Linked DNA regions of Homo sapiens: region 2 is reported to be linked to region 1. Evidence: microRNA targets listed by miRTarBase, many of them from high-throughput screens and not tested one by one. Region 1 holds a microRNA gene; the other region holds the end of a gene's coding sequence.

The links. Region 1 holds the annotated microRNA hsa-miR-4700-3p (CACAGGACUGACUCCUCACCCCAGUG, at 2,062-2,087, opposite strand). A microRNA usually pairs through its seed, bases 2 to 8, with sites in the 3' UTR of a target mRNA and lowers its output. Matches are read on the target gene's strand: a 7mer-m8 pairs with bases 2 to 8, a 7mer-A1 pairs with bases 2 to 7 and ends in A, and an 8mer does both.
Region 2: the mRNA of PIP4P1 is a reported target of hsa-miR-4700-3p. Seed matches in the 3' UTR shown: 7mer-m8 at 741-747 and 7mer-A1 at 832-838.

What each region holds. Positions count from the first base shown.
Region 1 is chr12:120,721,537-120,725,319 of GRCh38, reverse strand. It overlaps MIR4700 (microRNA 4700), which reads right to left and starts at 2,127; the gene lies at 2,054-2,127. UNC119B (unc-119 lipid binding chaperone B) reads right to left here. Exons shown (of 5, transcript NM_001080533.3): 5 at 1,680-3,783.
Region 2 is chr14:20,455,460-20,458,831 of GRCh38, reverse strand. PIP4P1 (phosphatidylinositol-4,5-bisphosphate 4-phosphatase 1) reads left to right here. Exons shown (of 7, transcript NM_144568.4): 7 at 130-1,151. The coding sequence ends at 273. APEX1 (apurinic/apyrimidinic endodeoxyribonuclease 1) reads right to left here. Exons shown (of 5, transcript NM_001641.4): 2 at 3,129-3,254; 3 at 2,731-2,918; 4 at 1,972-2,164; 5 at 1,065-1,841. The coding sequence starts at 3,186. The coding sequence ends at 1,324. Among named protein-coding and RNA genes, the nearest start is that of APEX1, 1.9 kb to the right of the region's middle. RefSeq lists a silencer at 1,448-1,742 and an enhancer at 3,343-3,372.

The sequences.
Region 1 (3,783 bases):
CCCTGACCACACCAAGCCGTTTCTCCCCCTCTGGCTCTCTATCTTTCGTTCTGTTTATTCAAGGCACTTTGCATCTGAAATTATCTGCTTCCCCGACTCGCTCCGAGAAGCTCAAGGACCTGTCTTGTGTTGGTGCTCAATATTTAGGCCCCTGGAGTTGGGCTGCAAGGAAAGCTTTCTTTTCCCCAGAGGCTGTGAAGGTGGGTGGAGATGCTACCCCCGTTCCACTTCAGTACTGTGTCTCATTCCCGATTGGGGCAGAACCCAGACACATATTTGACCCCTAGCATCCTCATCAGGACACCTTTGCCCCGCCCAAGAAACTATGCTGATTTTACTTGTCCCATAAGGGTCTTCTCTTGTGCAAGTGTGATTCTGATTCCCATAGCCTCCTGGGCACCACCCACGCCCTCCCAGGCACCCACACATCCCTCCAACTGCCTTTCTTTCCCAGCACTCAGCCAGGCAGGCATCTGTTCCCAGCATTGACCTATTTGCCAAAACTTCTGTCTCTTCCTCTTGGAGGAAAGTGGAAACCTCGGTCACTACTTCCTAGAAGAAAGCCAATCAAAAGATGCAGCAAAGTCCTTAATGTGTTACCTTTCTTTTTAAATAATGCATTTAAAAGAACGCCTCTAAATTCTCAGTACTTTAAAGTCAAATGAATGGCTCCCATTGGCAAATGCTCTAAGGGCTTCCTCACCTTTCCGTCATCCCACCTGGGAACCAGCCCTGGGTGGAAGAAACGATGAAGAAGCAGGAGAAAAGGGAGAAATAAGTGAGTTGTGTTTGTGAGCAAAGGCCAATAATTGCTTCAGGTGCCACAGAGCATCTAAACCAGACTCTTGAGAATTTGTGACTGTAAATATGAACGTTCAAATTTCATTTTAAAAGTATCCAAGTTTTCCAATAGAGACAGAATCAGATAGTGGTTGCAAGAGGCGAAGTGGGGGAAGTCACCTGGCTGCAAACACAAGGAACTCAGGAACTTTCTGAGTGGGTACGATGGAAATGTCCTATATCATGATTGTGATGGGTAATAAAAGTATTCATTTGTCAAAATGCATCAATACTCTTAATTGAGGTAAATTTTACTGTAGTTAAAGTATTTCTTAATAAGCCTACCTTTATGGCCAGCCACAGTGGCTCACACCTGTAATCCCAGAACTTTGGGAGGCCAAGGCGGGTTGATCACCTGAGGTCAGGAGTTCAAGACCAGCCTGGCCAACATGGGGAAACCCTGTCTCTACCAAAAATACAGAATTAGCCGGGCGTGGTGGCATGCACTTGTAATCCCAGCTACTTGGGAGGCTGAGGCAGGACAATCACTTGAACCCGGGAGGCGAAGGGTGCAGTGAGCCACCATCATGCCATCACATCCCAGCCTGGGAAAAAAGAGCGAAACTCCATCTCAAAAAAAAAAACCCTACCTTTAAAACATGCATGTAAACTTTCAATTTACAAAGCCACTCACCCTGGGAAAATATAAAGCAAAAATATTAAGCCTAAAGTCCAGTACAATTCCTCAATCACCCTAGAAGCCAGCTATACTCTAGTTCAACTACTTACAGAAGGGCCACATAATAGCCAAAGTAAGAGAAACCTGGAGCCCCCATTCGCCCCTGCTCCCCTCAGCAACACAACGGGCCCAACAATCAGGAGACAGGACGAGGGAGACGTACTGTGAAAATCTTTCTTTTATTACTGTCTCATGTGGCAAAATAACATTTTATACAAATAAGTCACCTAGTTTACTTTGGACACAAAGACAATAAAAACTGGAATGTGATTTTGGGGGAAGCGGGAAGGAGGAGGAAGGACAGATCAGGTCATTGATGTTTCTTATATTCTGTAAAAAATAGATTTACAGGAAAAAAAATAGACTTTCACAACTTCAATGACTTTACACGGTCCTTTGTAAAACCAGTGGTAAATCCACCTCCACCAAATCCTTCTTGAGGCTGATATGTTCTGTGACATGGAATGTGAGTAACACAATGGTTCAATGATTAGGCTCCTACACCAGGTACAGCAGCACCTGATGCCACAGGAATCCTCGTGCACTGGGGTGAGGAGTCAGTCCTGTGAATTTCAGGACACACTGTCCTCATCCCCAGACCTCACTGACATCATAGTGACACTGGCCATCAGAAGAAAGTGACTTTACAGAGGGGAAAAGAGTATCCTGGAAGCGTACCGGTGGGGCAGGACACACTAAGGCAGGACTCACCCAGTTTGTACATTAGACACAGCCTATTAAATCCATTCCAGAAATGAGTTCCACTTCAACTGAAAAAATAAACTGAAGATTGCCCAATCACTGCCATTTCACAAATTTCCAGTTTATGGTCAGCCCCAAAATCACATTCTTCCACCCTATGTATTGGAAATCAAATGGCCCAAAGACTGAGGTGTCTTCAGGAAGCACATGCTTGAAAAATGTTTTCTCTGCAAAACAGTATTGAGTAATACATAAGGAGACATAGCCTACTTTAGCCCAAAACTTCTTTCACTTGTTATGTCCTTTTACCTCTTAAAACATAGAATGAAATAAACTCGGATCTTCTTTGGAGAAGCTAGAAGGGCATTTTGGCCCAAAGGCTGTACAGGAAAAGAGAGGCTCTCTCCAGGAGACTGCAAGGCAAAGGAACAGAAGCAGGAGGGGCAGGCCCTCTGGCACCAGGTGGGCCTGCTACTCTGATGAAATGTGCTCCCAGCTCTTGACAAAGGGCAGGGTCTCCTATGCAGGTAGTTTTTTTGCCGCCTCCCATTGTATCACCCACAAGGTAACTGCTATCAACAGTTCAGATTCCTTAATAACATGGCAGCCTGAATGGTTCTGTTACTTTCAGAGAAAGTATGCCTTGCAATTCTCTCCCCAACTCAGGTACAAACGCTTGAATTTCAAACTCATACTGGTTTACACCCCAGAGTGGAATGCTTCTCAAGATTTCCTGAGCAGCTAGACACAGGAACCCACAGCCCCAGATACAGAACACCAGACTTTCAGAAGCAGCAAAGCCCTGTCCTGCTGGGCATGGACCAAGCACTATCCGCAAATGGTCTCCAGTGAGACTAAGGCAAGCTAACAAGGAAGAGGATACAGCACAACTCAAGCCAGATTGCCCACCTCCTCCTTCCTCCACATCCTCTTTCTAGCAAAAGCGAACACTGCAGATAAGAGATAGCCCACTAATGTAGCAGATACAGTGTGCCCAGGGGCATGTTTCCAAGACACACTCTACTAAGCACAGCTCTGGGCAGCTCCAGAACCACATCCCAGATAATACTCAAATATCAAATAGTAGAAACTGTCCCACCTGGGCCTCTGTCAAAGAGAGAAGGGATTGTTGTTACGCTTGACAGGAACATGCAAATCCCATTTGAGGAGCCACAATGAGAAACAGAAGGTGAGGAGACAGTGCTAACAGCCCTGGCATCTTTCTGCCAGTGAGGAGGTGGGAACAATGGCAATGCAGCTTTCCCCTGCAGCATAAGGGACAGAGCCACACGTAAGGCACCTGGATTTACAGTGGACGCCAGTTCTGAGAGTGGCCGGTCTGGTGATAAGGAACCCACTCCACAGGAGGAATGGTCTCTCCCCTCTCTCGGGGCTGAATCCAAGGCCAGCACACAGGGGTAAGCTAGGACCTTCTCAGTGAGAAAGCTGCCAGCATGTGGCATTGCCAAGACTCTGGCCTGGGACAAAGCACTGGGCCAAGGTTCGGGGCCACTCGCCCTAAAGCCCACACAGGGAGCAGCACTGGTGGTGGATGGACAGGA
Region 2 (3,372 bases), not on the chromosome of region 1:
GGGTGGCTACATGTGGATAAGGAACAAGGACTGAAGCGTGAGTTATTACTGTTCTTAGAACTAATAGGAGGTAGTGGAGACCAACATTAACCCCATCTTTCTTTTCTTCTCCCTCCTTATCTTCATCAGTTTGGCACATGGAAGCATGCACGGCGATATGGAGGCATCTATGCAGCCTGGGCATTTGTCATCCTGTTGGCTGTGCTGTGTTTGGGCCGGGCTCTTTATTGGGCCTGTATGAAGGTCAGCCACCCTGTCCAGAACTTCTCCTGAGCCTGATGACCCACAGACTGTGCCTGGCCCCTCCCTGGTGGGGACAGTGACACTACGAAGGGAGCTGGGGTAGTTAAAGGCTCCCGGGGCTTCTAGAAGGAAGCCAAGCAGCTGCCTTCCTTTTCCCTGGGGAGAGGTAGGAAGGAACCAGGCCCTCACTTAGGTTTGGAGGGGCAGATAAGAGCACTGCTGACCATCTGCTTTCCTCCAAGGGTTGCTGTGTCTAGGGTGAAGTAGGCAAAACGTTGCCCTTAAAACTGGGCCCTGAAGACGGTTCCAGCCTTGTCCTTCCTGTGTGCTCCCTGAGAGCCATTCCTGTCCCTTACACATTCCAGGGCAGGGTGGGGGTGGGTAGCCCTGGGGGTTCCCCTCCCTCTTGTGCACCATTAGGACTTTGCTGCTGCTATTGCACTTCACCAGAGGTTGGCTCTGGCCTCAGTACCCTCAGTCTCCTCTCCCCACATTGTGTCCTGTGGGGGTGGGGTCAGCCGCTGCTCTGTACAGAACCACAGGAACTGATGTGTATATAACTATTTAATGTGGGATATGTTCCCCTATTCCTGTATTTCCCTTAATTCCTCCTCCCGACCTTTTTTACCCCCCCAGTTGCAGTATTTAACTGGGCTGGGTAGGGTTGCTCAGTCTTTGGGGGAGGTTAGGGACTTATCCTGTGCTTGTAAATAAATAAGGTCATGACTCTACGCTTTTTCAGTTGTTAACTTGTGTGCATGAAAATATGAGGAAGAGAATGTGTAGCCCCACGAAGGGGTAAGACACGAAGACAGCAAGGCTGAAACTATGGCTCTTTATTTTCATGTGGATAATTCAAACAAAGTCATTAGTAGTCTTTGTTCAATTTTTTTTTAAAAAACAAAAAACCCTCAAATAAAAAATCTTGGGCTTAAAAGAACTCTATCACAGGAGCCTGGTTGGAGGATTCCTAGTTTTATACATGAGAAATAGAATGCAGATTTCTCTGAAGAGTGTTTAAAGAAGGAATGGTAGTTGAGGGGGCTTATTTCCCAGGCTCAAAGTGATTTAGGGGTGGTGTCACAGTGCTAGGTATAGGGTGATAGGACAGTGATCACTGCCGAGGGCCTTGGAACGGATCTTGCTGTCACACAATGCAGGTAACAGAGAGTGGGACAACAAAAAGTAATCAAGGCGCCAACCAACATTCTTGGATCGAGCATTCATCATATAAGTCCAAAAGGTGTAGGCATAGGGTGTGTTGGGGTAGAGGTGCCTAAAGCTGTCAGCCAGTGGCACAGCCTGCAGTAATTCCCCGAAGCCTTGGCGCTCTTGTGGCGTGAAGCCAGCATTCTTTTTGTTCCCCTTGGGGTTGCGAAGGTCAATTTCTTCATGTGCCACATTGAGGTCTCCACACAGCACAAGGGGCTTTCGGGAAGCCAGGCCCTTCAGGAACTTGCGAAAGGCTTCATCCCAGCGCTGCCGGTACTCCAGTCGTACCAGACCTCGGCCTGCATTAGGTACATATGCTGTTACCAGCACAAACGAGTCAAATTCAGCCACAATCACCCGGCCTTCCTGATCATGCTCCTCATCGCCTATAGAAATGAAACAGAATTAGCATAAAAAACTATAAGAAAAGGGAAAGCAATCAAGAGGTGGGGCAGAGATAGAGAATTAGCAATTGGTTTTGAAGAGTTCAGGCATTAGGCATCAATAGGGTCTCACCTATGCCGTAAGAAACTTTGAGTGGGCACTGGCGGGAAAGCAGGCCCACGCCACTGTACCCTTCCTTGTCCGAAGGAGCTGACCAGTATTGATGAGAGAGTCCAGGCAGCTCCTGAAGTTCAGCTGGTAGTTTGTTCTCTGAACATTTGGTCTCTTGAAGGCACAGTATATCTGGGGCTTCTTCCTTTACCCACTGTAAGTGAAAAGAAAGGTGGAAAACGTATTATCAATTCAGCAGAACATTTATTGAATAATCTATATGCTAAGTCATAGATACGCACGGGTTAAACAGTCTCTTGGCCTAAGGAGTTCGAGTCAAGCAGCACAATATTCAAACAATTCTAAGCTAGATAAATGAAAACAAATATAGAGAGGTAAGAAAGTCTTACATGCTATGCCAAGGAGATGTGTTTTTTCTATAGGCAGTGGATAGCAAGCTAAGATTTTTAAGCTATGGTTAATGGAATGGAGGACATGCTTCATATGGAATGCAATGCAGGAAGATAAAATGGAGGAAGTATAGTGAAGAGGTTTTTGCAACATTCTGGGAAGAGGAGAGAACACTAAAAAAGAAAATGGCAATGGAAGTGAAGGAACAGACATTTAGGAAATACAACTGGCAAGACTGGGGAAGCCCCACAGAAAACTACGGGCAGGAGAAAAATAAAACAGCCTGAAGGCTAAACGGAGAAAAGGGGTGACTAAACCCTAAGACCATTCAATACTAAAAAATGTCTCTTTCCCTCAAATTCCACTCACATCTAATCCTTTCTTCTTAATCCAGGCTCGAAGCCCATCCACATTCCAAGAGCAGATCTTGAGTGTGGCAGGTTTGCCACTGGGTGAGGTTTTCTGATCTGGGGGGTCCTCATACAGGGCTGGGCCCTCTCCTGCTGCCTCTTTGTCATTTTTCTTTGCGGCCGTCTTACTCTTCTTGGCCTCTGGCTCTATAAAATGAGTAATATATACTGACAAAAAGCTGGTGGTTTCCAACTGCGATCCGGCGTTAACTATAGACCCAACGAAAGCCTACGGTTCCTGCGACTTCTTCACAAACCCCTGCAAAAATGAGTCGGCCCGTACTTACCGTACATCAAGGGAATGACAAACACCCCCGCCGCAGCTTCTAGGAAGAAGGGCTGATTTCATTCCCTTACCTGTCCTGAGCTCATCCCCGTCTTCCGCCACCGCTCCCTTTTTCCCACGCTTCGGCATTCCCGTTACGAACGCCCTTGGGCAGCTGTACCGCGTCACCCACCGAAGCAATATTTTTACCGCGTTGCCTACAGACGCAAAGAAATCATGAAACCAGCTAAGGCTGGGGAGAAGACTCCTCCCAAGAGCGTCCCCGCACCAGGTCCCGCCTTTCAAACCACGTTATCTCTAAATCCTTTCCCCGCC